Linked DNA regions of Homo sapiens: region 2 is linked to region 1. The links come from fine-mapping of genetic effects on gene expression. A gene starts in region 1. The other region holds a variant in brackets. All regions are shown on one strand. Distances are from middle to middle. Region 1 holds the start of NFKBIE (NFKB inhibitor epsilon). Region 2 overlaps SPATS1 (spermatogenesis associated serine rich 1).

Region 1 (5,372 bases):
CATCCTGTCCTGCTGCCCTTCCCTGGGAGTCAAGAGGCACCTCTCAGATAGCACAGACCAGGTCGGGCCTAACAGAGGCCCTCCATTCCTGTGTGCACCTCCAAGAGGAGGTCTTTGTAGTGCAGAAAATGTATTTGTTGAGGGGGCCAAGAACCTTAATCTAGGGGTAATGGGGGCAGTTGGGAGGGGAAGTTCCAGTCTTGGGGTTTCCCCACGTCAGGTGGGGAAAACGAAAGCCAGTGATGGAGGGTCTAGGCCGGGACAGCTGCCTTGGGGCATTAGTGAGGGGGGTAGATTGGCTAAAAGGCCCGTCTGGGCTGGGGAGGGGGCTGCTTGGGCAGGAGGGTGGCAGGCTTTAGCAGCAGGCAGCAGGAGAGGCCCAGGAGAGTGACGGAGGGAGGGAGGAACTGCTCTGGAAATCCCCTAGGCCAGGGCCTGCTCTCTGGGTCACATTCTTGCAGCCACCTCCCTCTCTCCCCCAGTATCCCCTCCTCCCACTTCCTCTTCCCACTTCCATACCTCCCACAGCCCAGACACCTCCAACAGAGGGAGGAAAGTGCCCCCTGCTCTCTGGGGACTCGCTGGGGAGCCCGGACATTTCTCCCCTCCACACACACACCCAATCTGGACACAACACCTGCTTCTAACTAGAGATGGAAAAGGCTGGGGCTGAGAGGCTAACAAAAGACGGCAATGTCAAAAGTCCCCTCTCCTTGGATCAAAGGTCATCAGAGGTATCTTGCGTGCAGCCCCCAAAACCTTGGGGTTCTGGGCCTGAGGGCTGGTGATCCAGGCAGAGTACAGAAAGGACTGGGTCACTCCTCTCCCACCCACTGGGTCCACCAGCTGTCTTTATCAATGGCCACCCAGGATTAGGACCCTGCATCTCCAAAAAGCAGGTTAGGACAGCCACCTCCTGCCTCCCCTACTCCTATTTATATGAGCACCCTTGACCAGGGATTCCAGCCCTCCCCAACTCTATTTCTCATCCCCAGTTCCCAACCTTTCCCTCCTCTGTCAATGTTTTCTTCTTCCTGGGGGGCTAAATCCTCAACTGGCCAACCCATCCCACACAACTGCCTTTTACTTCAACTGCCCTCTGGCCCACTCCCACCAAACTCCATCTGGGTCTGGAGGAGGAAGGGTTAAGTGAGGGAGTGAGACACGACAGTTAGTGGGACTGGGGGCTCTGGAGGTAGAGGATGTCAGGGACGCTGACTCTAGCCCTCACTTCCCCTTTCTTAGCAGAGGAGGAAGTAAGCTGGGGCAGCCAGCCGCCTGTCTGTCTGCTGGGGCAAGAGTGCCCCAGCCTGGCTCACCCCATCCTCCTGAGGACCAGTCCCAAACCTACACCCTGGTGGCACCCCCCATGCCTAGCTTCCTGGCCCCGACTGGCAACCTGTAACTGGCACCTGTTGTTCCTTGAGACAGAGCATTCTGAGGTCAGGAACTGGGAATCCCAGATATTGAGCAAATAAGGATGTCCCCTTCCCCAGCAAGAAGAAACAAAAAAACTGGACTTGGTCAGGGGAATTTTCTCTTCCTAAGGGTGGATTATTGGTAGATTTCCAAGATGCTGGCTGGGTTAAGGGTCCTGCCAGCTCTGCCCACCCCGAAATGGGAGGACAGAGATGATTCCATGGCCTAGCTGGACCTCAAAAGTGGGCTGAGAGTTAAGTCTGGAGTTTGGAAGAGCGAATGGGGACTTGAAGGATCTTCACGGGGGAGTGGGGGTGCCCGACCTGTTGCGGCTCTTGGGCAGGCCCAGAGTTAGCATCCCGATTCAGCCTAGCCCCCATACTCACGTGTCTCCGTCCTCGGAGATGTAAGTGAGTGCTTCCAGCTGCTGAGGGCTCAGCGCCCCCACGTGGGGGAGTGGCAGGCGTGGGGCCGGGTCCTCAGCCTCGGGGCCCCCCAGCAAGGACAGGGTGTAGGTGAGCGAGGAGGAGCCATAGGTGGAATCAGCCCGCTCCCCATCCGCGTCTTCCTTCTCCTGTGGTTCCTTGACGGGTCCCGGAGGATGGGTGCAGGGCTGGGGGCTGCCGTCCGAGGGCCCGGAGGCTGGAGCCGAGGTGGACTCGGGTAGGGAGCGCAGAGAGCGCAGAGACTCAATGCCAGAGTCGTACTGGCTCTCCTCCGCCTCGTCCGGCCCCTTCCGCGCCTCCGACATGCCCGCGGCTCTGGCCGGCCGGGGCCCGGTCTGAGCAGGATCCGGCTCCAGGCTCCGCCGCGCCGCCTTTCCGGGTTGCGGGTCCGCTTGGCAGAGCGGGCGCCCGGCCCGCGGCGGCCTCCTTCCCGGGCTGTGGGGCTCCGAGGGGCCGGCGCGCAGCGAGGACAAGGTTCGGAGCGCTGGCCAGGTCCACCCAGCGGTTACTGTGGGCAGCCGAACCGCCCAAGCGGGTCCTCCTCCTCGCCCCGCCCCTCCGGACCAACAGGGTCGCCTCACGCGGATGGCCCCGCCCCCTCCCCGCCCCCGGCGGGCGCTTCCGGAAAGAGGCCCCGCCCCTCCGGAATCCCCCTTCCCGGGCTCTGCGTAGGCTTGGAGTCTGTGGTTCCCGGGCCTTGACTCACTCCTTCGTTGATTCATTCACTCATTCATTCATTCATTCATTCACTCTTTCCCCCTTCCTCCTTCACTCCATTCATTAGTTCCACGCATGTACTGTTTCCTTCTTTCACTTCTATTTCTTAATTCATTTGTTTTATTTTTATTTTTTATTTTTTTGAGACGAAGTCTTGCTCTGTTGCCCAGGCTGGAGTGCAGTGGTTGATCTCTGCTCACTGCAACCTCCGCCTCCTGGGTTCAAGCGATTCTCCTGCCTCAGCCTTTCGAGTAGCTGGGACTACAAGTAGAGACGGGGGTCTCGCTACGTTGCCCAGGCTGGTCTCGAACTCCTGGGTTCAAGCGATCTGCCTGCCTCGGACTACCAAAGTGCTGGGATTACAGGCTGTGAGCCACCGGTCCCGGATCATTCATTTGTTTTAAAAGAAATATCTATTAATTGTCCGTACAAGCTGGCATCTTTGGGGGAGGGCATGTAGGCGATGGGATGGGGAAGCACTGCTTCCTATCCCCTGCCCATTTATCTCAATTTCTCTTGCTTTCTCATCTTTCCCTATCAGTGCCCAGGGGTACGGGTAGGGAAAGGGGACTCCCATTATCTTTAAAGGAGCAGTTCTCCTGGGTCCTGGAAGACAGTCTCCTGTGTCAACGTCCCACATCACATGGAATTGGGCATGAAAATGTTTTTTTGGAAAGAGCGTCTTCTCAGGGAAACTGTTGTCTAAAAAGTAAAGTGGTTGTGGAGTTTCTTCTTCCTCAAAGGGTGAAACCCTGGCCTTGGGTAGTTACAGTTTCTGGTCAACCCCAGCAGTCAAGGAAGTGGGGTCAGGTTGGGGAGGCCCCAGACATGCTGGGTTGCACTCTGCTCAGGTCCCCAACACAGCCCCAATCTTAGTCCCAAAACATCTTTCCTCTTTCACTGTCCCTGGGCCTAGGAAGGCCGTGGGAGCACCCTACTACAAGTGAGCCCTAAGCCCATGCTCCATGATTTATTCCCTCATTCCTCCCCACTATTCCAAGTGCTATCAGCCTAACGCCAGCAATGCCCTTAGAGGGTTATCCGCAAGGGAACATGTAGCTTTTCCATCTCCAGCATTGGAGAAAGGAAGGTGGATGAGTGTAGACAGCAACGTTTTGCAGGGGGGAGGCCAGCTTTCCCACAGCCCTTCCCCTGCAACCTCATTTTATTCATCCATCATTCACCTACTTGACAAACATGTATGGAAGGTCTCCTGTAATGTCTGACGTTGTTCTTTCTACTGGAAGCAAAACTGACTATCACAGTAATAACCAATAACCACCCCCCATGACCAACAAAAAAATCCCATGGTCCTAAAAAAGCTCCTTGGCAATTACAGCTCAGAGTGGTTGGGATAAGACAGAAGTGAGAACAGGGTGTTGTGGGGGCACACAGTGGGGCCAGCTACTCAGTGGGGTGAGAGGCAAGGAAGCTTCCATTTGAACTGAGAATGGGAAGGGAAGAGAGATAGGGAGAGGAGAAGGACCTAGTCTGTGGGGGGCGATTGGAGGCAGAAGAGTTGGGGGAGGGCTGAGGGGAGAAGATGGCCCACTGTTCTTCAACCCCATGTAGGACCAGAGTGGGAAAGACGTAATGAGCATGAAGCCCAGTGAGGAGCCACGAGGGGAAAGGCCTGGGAAATTGAAGCATCTCCTTCCCTTGAGTCAGCATGATTTCAGATGTTCTCAGTCTCCTCCCCTGACATGTTCCTCTCCGGTCCTCAAAGGCTGCAGCAAAAGTATAGTAATAAACTCCAGACCCAGACCAACTGGGTTCAAAATTTGGCCGAGCGCGGTGGCTCACGCCTGTAATCACGCCTATAAACTTTGAGAGGCTGAGGTGGGTGGATCATTTGAGGTCAGGAGTTCAAGACTGGCCTGGCCAACATGGCGAAACCTCATCTCTACTAAAAATACAAAAAGTAGCTGGGCCTGGTGGCACATGCCTGTAATTAATCCCAGCTACTTGGGAGGCTGAGGCAGGAGAATCACTTGAGGGTGGAGGTTGCAGTGAGCTGAGATCACACCACTGCACTCCAGCCTGGGCAACAGAGTGAGACTCAGTCTAAAAACAAAAACAAAAACAAAAAAATCCACACGAAATCTGACACTATCATCCCCATTTTAATGTTGGGAAACTGAGGCCCAGAGAGGTGAGTTGACTTGCTCAAGTTAAAATAGAAAGTGCAGAGATGGCTTCTCATCTAATCCAAAACTTTTACATATTTTTTAGTGGAACCTTCTTTTCTTTATCAAGAGGTAAACCACATAGGGTGGGAGTGTCTGAGCCCTCTGCAAGGATGTAAGAACTCAGGAGTGTGCAAGGACCTCCTTTTTATTCATACAGAGGCTGAATTTTAGGAAAAACCCACTTAACCCAGCCAGGTGTTTGGCTCTGAGCCGTAACAGGTGTGTGGCAGTCCCTTTTATGGCCACATGAGGTCAGCATTGAGTCACCCACTGGCCCCACTACCAGAGCTTGCACTCTTGACAGGAATCCTTTCCAACACTCCAGGAATGGGGAGGGGGACCATTGCAGTGTTATCTGAAAGGGTGACCTGGGGACTTTGACTTAGGCCACAGCATGGCTAGGGACCTGACCTCGCCTCCTCAGCTCCAGTCTTCTCTGAGGCTGGGCCCCTCGTCTTTCTCTCTGTTGTTTTCTGGTTCCCTTTGTGCCCCCACTCCCCACCTCCACCCACCCCAGCTAGGCTCATCTTCAGGAAACAGGCCTGGTTTCCATGGTGACCAGCCGGTCAGCTGGCTCCTTCCACCGCCCCCTCCTTCACCC
Region 2 (5,372 bases), 100 kb after region 1:
GAGTATGAACTCAGGTGCGACAGACTCCAAAGTCCAAACTCTTCCCACCACCTCTTGTCACCCAACTCTTACTTGTCAGTGCCCTGGTTTGGTATGCAAAAGGTTTCAGATGCACTGTATATTTAATTAATTGATTAAATTGTTGAGACAGAGTCTCATTCTATTTCCCAGGCTGGAGTGCAGTGGCATGATCTCGGCTTACTGCAACCTCCGTCTCCCGGGTTTAAGCGATTCTCCTGTCTCAGCCTCCCGAGTAACTGGGATTACTGGCGTGTGCCACCACACCCAGCTAATTTTTGTATTTTTAGTAGAGACAGGGTTTCACTGTGTTGGCCAGGCTGGTCTAGAACTCCTGGCCTCAAGGGGATTCAGTATATATTTTAAACCTCCACTCTCTCTGCTTTGAATCCTCAGCATCTCATACCCAGCAGGCACTCAATGCATGGGTGCAGTTGATGTTATTTCACCACACAGAAGAGCTAATCAAAAGTGTAATACAGTCAGTTATTGAAAAGGTTTTTGAAAGAGAAAGACAAAAAAGTAAATACTCTGGTAACCCAAGAACTTCCACCTGTCACGCTGATGGCTTTTCCGAGTTAGCTAGAAGAATCTGGGTGTGTGGCAAAGATGGAGGTCATGCTTCCAGCCACGTGTCCCTGCTTCTGAGCCCAAGGGTGATGAGTCTCGTAGTCCAGGCTTATTCTCTTAGGAGATGCATCTGGTGTAAGTGTGTGGGTTGATTTATTTATTTTAAATTTTAATTTTTTAAATAGGCAATTTTAAGGACTTTAGGTGTGTGGGTTTAAATGATCACCCTACACTAGGCTGATGCCTTCCACTCCCGTGATTAGTTTCTTGTTCCCAGGGCTTTAGCAGGGGCTGAGCTGGGTGTAAGAACCTCTGCTGAGTAATCTTGCTCTTCTCCAGGAAGCCACCTCCCACTGCTGCATGGCCCCAGTCCTTGAGGCAGAAGGAGCAAGACATCCTTAGTTGGTTTCCTTCCTGGACCCAGTCAGAGAGGCAGAGCCCCAGGGACACTTGTTTCTTCGGCTTCCTAAGACTCAGGGATTCAAAGTGCACTAATGCTCAGGAATGAAGAGATTTTTAGGTCAGAGATTTTTGGATCATTGCAAAGAAACCTCTGATTCACCTTATATTTTAAACCAAAACACTCCATCTGAATCTAACAATTCTTTTCCAGGGTGAGGTAGTTACAACAACACTTTTTGGAAAATGTCCCAAATATAGGCTCATCTCCTTAAGGCAAGATAATCACAAACAGAACTTTGAGAAACTTCTATGTAATTTATAATAAAATACTAAAATATCCTCTTTCCATTGTCATGCCAATACTTACAGCAAATCTGTGGATCATCTTCAGCCCTTGTATGATTTTGTTTTCAAACCTTCTCCACAGATATTGATCCCAGGAATGGAATCCCAAAGTTAACTCCAGGCGACAATCCATATATGTACCCAGAACAGAGTAAAGGCTTCCACAAAGCAGGATCAATGCTCCCACCAGTGAATTTTTCAATGTAAGTGTATGTTAATACTAGCATTATATAGTTAACTTTAAAGGAATTGTGTCTCTCTACTACACAGAAATTATATTTTAAAAGGGATAGATGTCAACAAGATGTGATTGGATGAAAATTCCTTGAAAAGCTCATCTTTAGTTAATTAATGTCTGCACACATGCATGTGTATAATTAAAATTACACACAGGACTTGGACTACAAAAAAGTGGTTGTTAATTTTGTTCCTATCTCTATTATCACAGATTTGAAAACTTTTAAATTTTCATACTGAATCAGATTGTTGGCCATAGTGACTACTATGTGGGTGGACTTAAACTTGGAAATAAACTTAGACCAAAGTGATGGAGAAAAGTGGGAGGATCATTACATTAAAAGAAAAATAGTTGGTGTATTACATTTTTTTTTTTTTTTTGAGACGGAGTCTCGCTCCGTCGCCCTGGCTGGAGTGCAGTGGTGCCATCTCAGCTCACTGCAAGCTCTGCCTCCTGGGTTCATGCCATTCTCCTGCCTCAGCCTCCCGAGTAGCTGGGACTACAGGTGCCCGCCACCACACCTGGGTAATTTTTTGTATTTTCAGTAGAGACGGGGTTTCACCATGTTAGCCAGGATGGTCTTGATCTCCTGACCTCGTGATCCGCCCGCCTTGGCCTCCCAAAGTGCTGGGTAGTTGGTGTACTACATTTAAAATATTATTTTAAAAAATTAACCATGTGGGATATAATGATGTTGACTAAAAATGATCAAAACTAAAATCTGTGGGCCGGGC[G/A]CGGTGGCTCACGCCTGTAACCCCAGCCCTTTGAGAGGCCAAGGGTGGGGTGGGGTGGATCGCCTGAGGTCAGGAGTTCAAGACCAGCCTGGCCAACATGGTAAAATCCCGTGTCTACTAAAAATACAAAAATTAGCTGGGCACGGTGGCAGATGCTTGTAATCTCAGCTACTCAGGAGGCTGAGGAAGGAGAATTATTTGAACCTGGGTGATGGAGGTTGCAGTGAGCCGAGATTGCAGCGCCACACTCTAGCCTGGGCGACAGAGTTAAGACTCCATCTCAAAATAAATAAAATAAAATAAAATAATATAAAATCTGTGGGCCAGGCACAGTGGCTCATGCCTGTAATCCTAGCACTTTGGGAGGCTGAGGCTGGAGGATTGCTTCAGCCCAGGCGTTCCAGACCTACCTGGGCAACATGGAGAAACCCCTTCTCTACAAAAATACAAAAAATTAGCTGGGCATGGTGGTGTGTGCCTATAATCCCAGCTACTTGGGAGGCTGAGGTGGGAGGATCACCTGAGCCTGAAAGGTCGAGGCTGCAGTGAGCTGAGATTGTGCCACTGCACTCCAGCCTTGGGGACAGAGTGAGACCCTGTCTCAAAACATACATAAAATAAAATAAAATAAAATAAAATAAAATCTGCGGTTCTTACAGTTTTGAAGTCAATACTTGAAAATTAAAATCGGAAAACAGGACATTCTATTGAATACAATGATGTATTGATCTCTTTGCTGTAGATGGCATACCAGTTTTATGATTGCCTTTTCTGTTTTTCAGAGTGCCTTATGAAAAGAAATTTGATACATTTATTCCACTTGAGCCTCTTCCACAAATTCCCAAGTGAGTTCTCTTGTCATGTTTTGTGTTATCCCATCTTTATTAAATATCGATTATTTTATTGTTTCCTTATGTGGAGGAGCAGGTAGATAACCAGGACACAGGGCCCTTTTGAATCCCAGCAGGAGGGTGGGGCAGTTTGTAAGGAAGGTGTTTGGATAGACATTCTGTAGAGTCTGCAATTGGGATGGTCACATATTCAACAGATGTAATTGACAAACTACCAGATGCCATGTGTTGTGCTAGCCATGCACTATAGGAGAGTTCACATGGAACAAAAAGACAGGGTTCCTGATTCCTAGAACATGAGTATGTTGGGAAAAAAAGACACATACTTAAATGATTGCAACTGGCGAGAATGGTTAGAGTTTCAAGAGGCAGAAAGAAAGCTAACAGAGCACTTCTGTGTTTGAGGGAAATATCATTCCTTTAATTTCATACTTTTGCTTCACTCCATTCTGAACCTCACTTATTTACCTAAGCAGGTTTCTGACCTATAAAGAGATATTTTCTTTTCTTTCTTTCTTTTTTTACTTTCTAATACAAAACAGTCTCCTATGAGTGGGCATGTGTCCCAGGGTCTAACCCACTCTGGAGCTCAGTGGGAATAAAAACCTTTTATTCCAAACTTGAGATTTTAATGTCTTTATTATGTTGCATTGTTACTTATGGCACACGATTAGGGCTTCTCATGTCTGTACTTTACATTTTTAATAAACACTATTCTAGAATATTCCAAATAATAGCAATTGCCTACATTTCATCACTCTACTATTTTAGCTTTTGTACATTACCTTTCATATGCAAATATGTTTTTACATGTATAAACCCCAGAATACCAATTAGTCTGGTTTTCCTAAAAAGAAAGGTTTTTTTTTTTTTTTTCTTGAAGTACAAAGCTAGCTGGGTGCAGTGGCTCACACCTATAATCCCAGCACTTTGGGAGGCCAAGGCAGGGGGACTGCTTGAAGCCAAGAGATTGAGACCAGCATGGGCAACATAGTGAGACCCTATCTCTACAAAATATTTTTTTTAAAAATTAGCCAGGCATAGTGGTATGCAACTGTAGTCCTAGGTACTTGGGAGGCTGAGGCAGGAGGGTTTCTTGAGTCTATGAGTTCGAGGCTGCAGTGAGCTACGATTGTGCTATGCACTCCAGCCTAGGTGATAGAGCAAAACCCTGTCTCAAATTAAAAAAAAAAAAAAGAGAGAGAAGTCGATCAGCATATTCCTCTGTGCTATGGTCAATAAGACAATTGTGAGACTTGGACCCTTTCCTCAGGGACAGTCACCCTAATGAAAAAGTCTACTAACCAGTTAGTCATGGCAGAAGTGACAAAGGCTTCTGTTGCTGGATTTAGCATTTATTGTTTCCTAGATTCTCTATTTTGTTCTGTAGCGTCTAGTTTGCTGTTAGTCCTATCCAGTGATTATGTATTTCGATCTTTAGAAATTCTATTTGATTCTTTTTTATATCTGTTGTTCTTTCCTATTTTCATGTTTTCCTTAAATACTTGGACATAGTAATAGCTGTTTAAAGATTTTTGTTTGTGGGCTGGGCGCGGTGGCTCATGCCTGTAATCCCAGCACTTTGGGAGGCTGAGGCTGGCGGATCACGAGGTCAGGAGATTGAGACCATCCTGGCTAACACAGTGAAACCCTGTCTCTACTAAAAATACAAAAAATTAGCTGGGCGTGGTGGCAGGCGCCTGTGGTCCCAGCTACTCGGGAGGCTGAGGCAGGAGAATGGCGTGAACCTGGGAGGCAGAGCTTGCAGTGAGCTGAGATGGTGCCACTGCACTCCAGCCTGGGCGACACAGCGAGACTCCGTCTCAAAAAAAAAAAAAAAAAAGATTTTTGTTTGCAGCCGGGCATGATGGCTCACTCCTGTAACCACAGCACTTTGGGAGGCCGAGGCAGGCAGATTGAGGTCAAGAGATCAAGACCATCCTGGCCAACATGGTGAGACCCTGTCTCTACTAAAAGCACAAAAATTATCTGGGTGTGGTGGCGCGCACCTGTAGTCCCAGCTACTTGGGAGGCTGAGGCAGGAGAATCACTTGAACCCGGGAGGCAAAGGTTGAAGTGAGCCAAGATCACGCCACTGCACTCCAGCCTGGCGACAGAGTGAGACTCCATCTCAAAAAAAAAAAAAAAAGATTTTTGTTTGCTAATTCTATTATTTGTGTCATTTCTGGGTGTGTTTCTACTGACTGATTTTTC

The links.
Region 2: its variant is fine-mapped to the expression of NFKBIE in whole blood (INTERVAL, PIP above 0.99).

Annotation. Positions count from the first base shown.
Region 1 is chr6:44,263,177-44,268,548 of GRCh38, forward strand. NFKBIE (NFKB inhibitor epsilon) reads right to left here and starts at 2,375. Exons shown (of 6, transcript NM_004556.3): 1 at 1,806-2,375. The coding sequence starts at 2,170. RefSeq lists enhancers at 70-319, 330-449, 530-579, 880-1,109, 1,502-2,001 and 1 more and a silencer at 1,920-2,589.
Region 2 is chr6:44,366,962-44,372,333 of GRCh38, forward strand. It overlaps SPATS1 (spermatogenesis associated serine rich 1), which reads left to right. Exons shown (of 9, transcript NM_001372081.1): 6 at 1,418-1,538; 7 at 3,090-3,152. Among named protein-coding and RNA genes, the nearest start is that of CDC5L, 18 kb to the right of the region's middle. The variant G/A (reference allele first, on the strand shown) is at 2,308.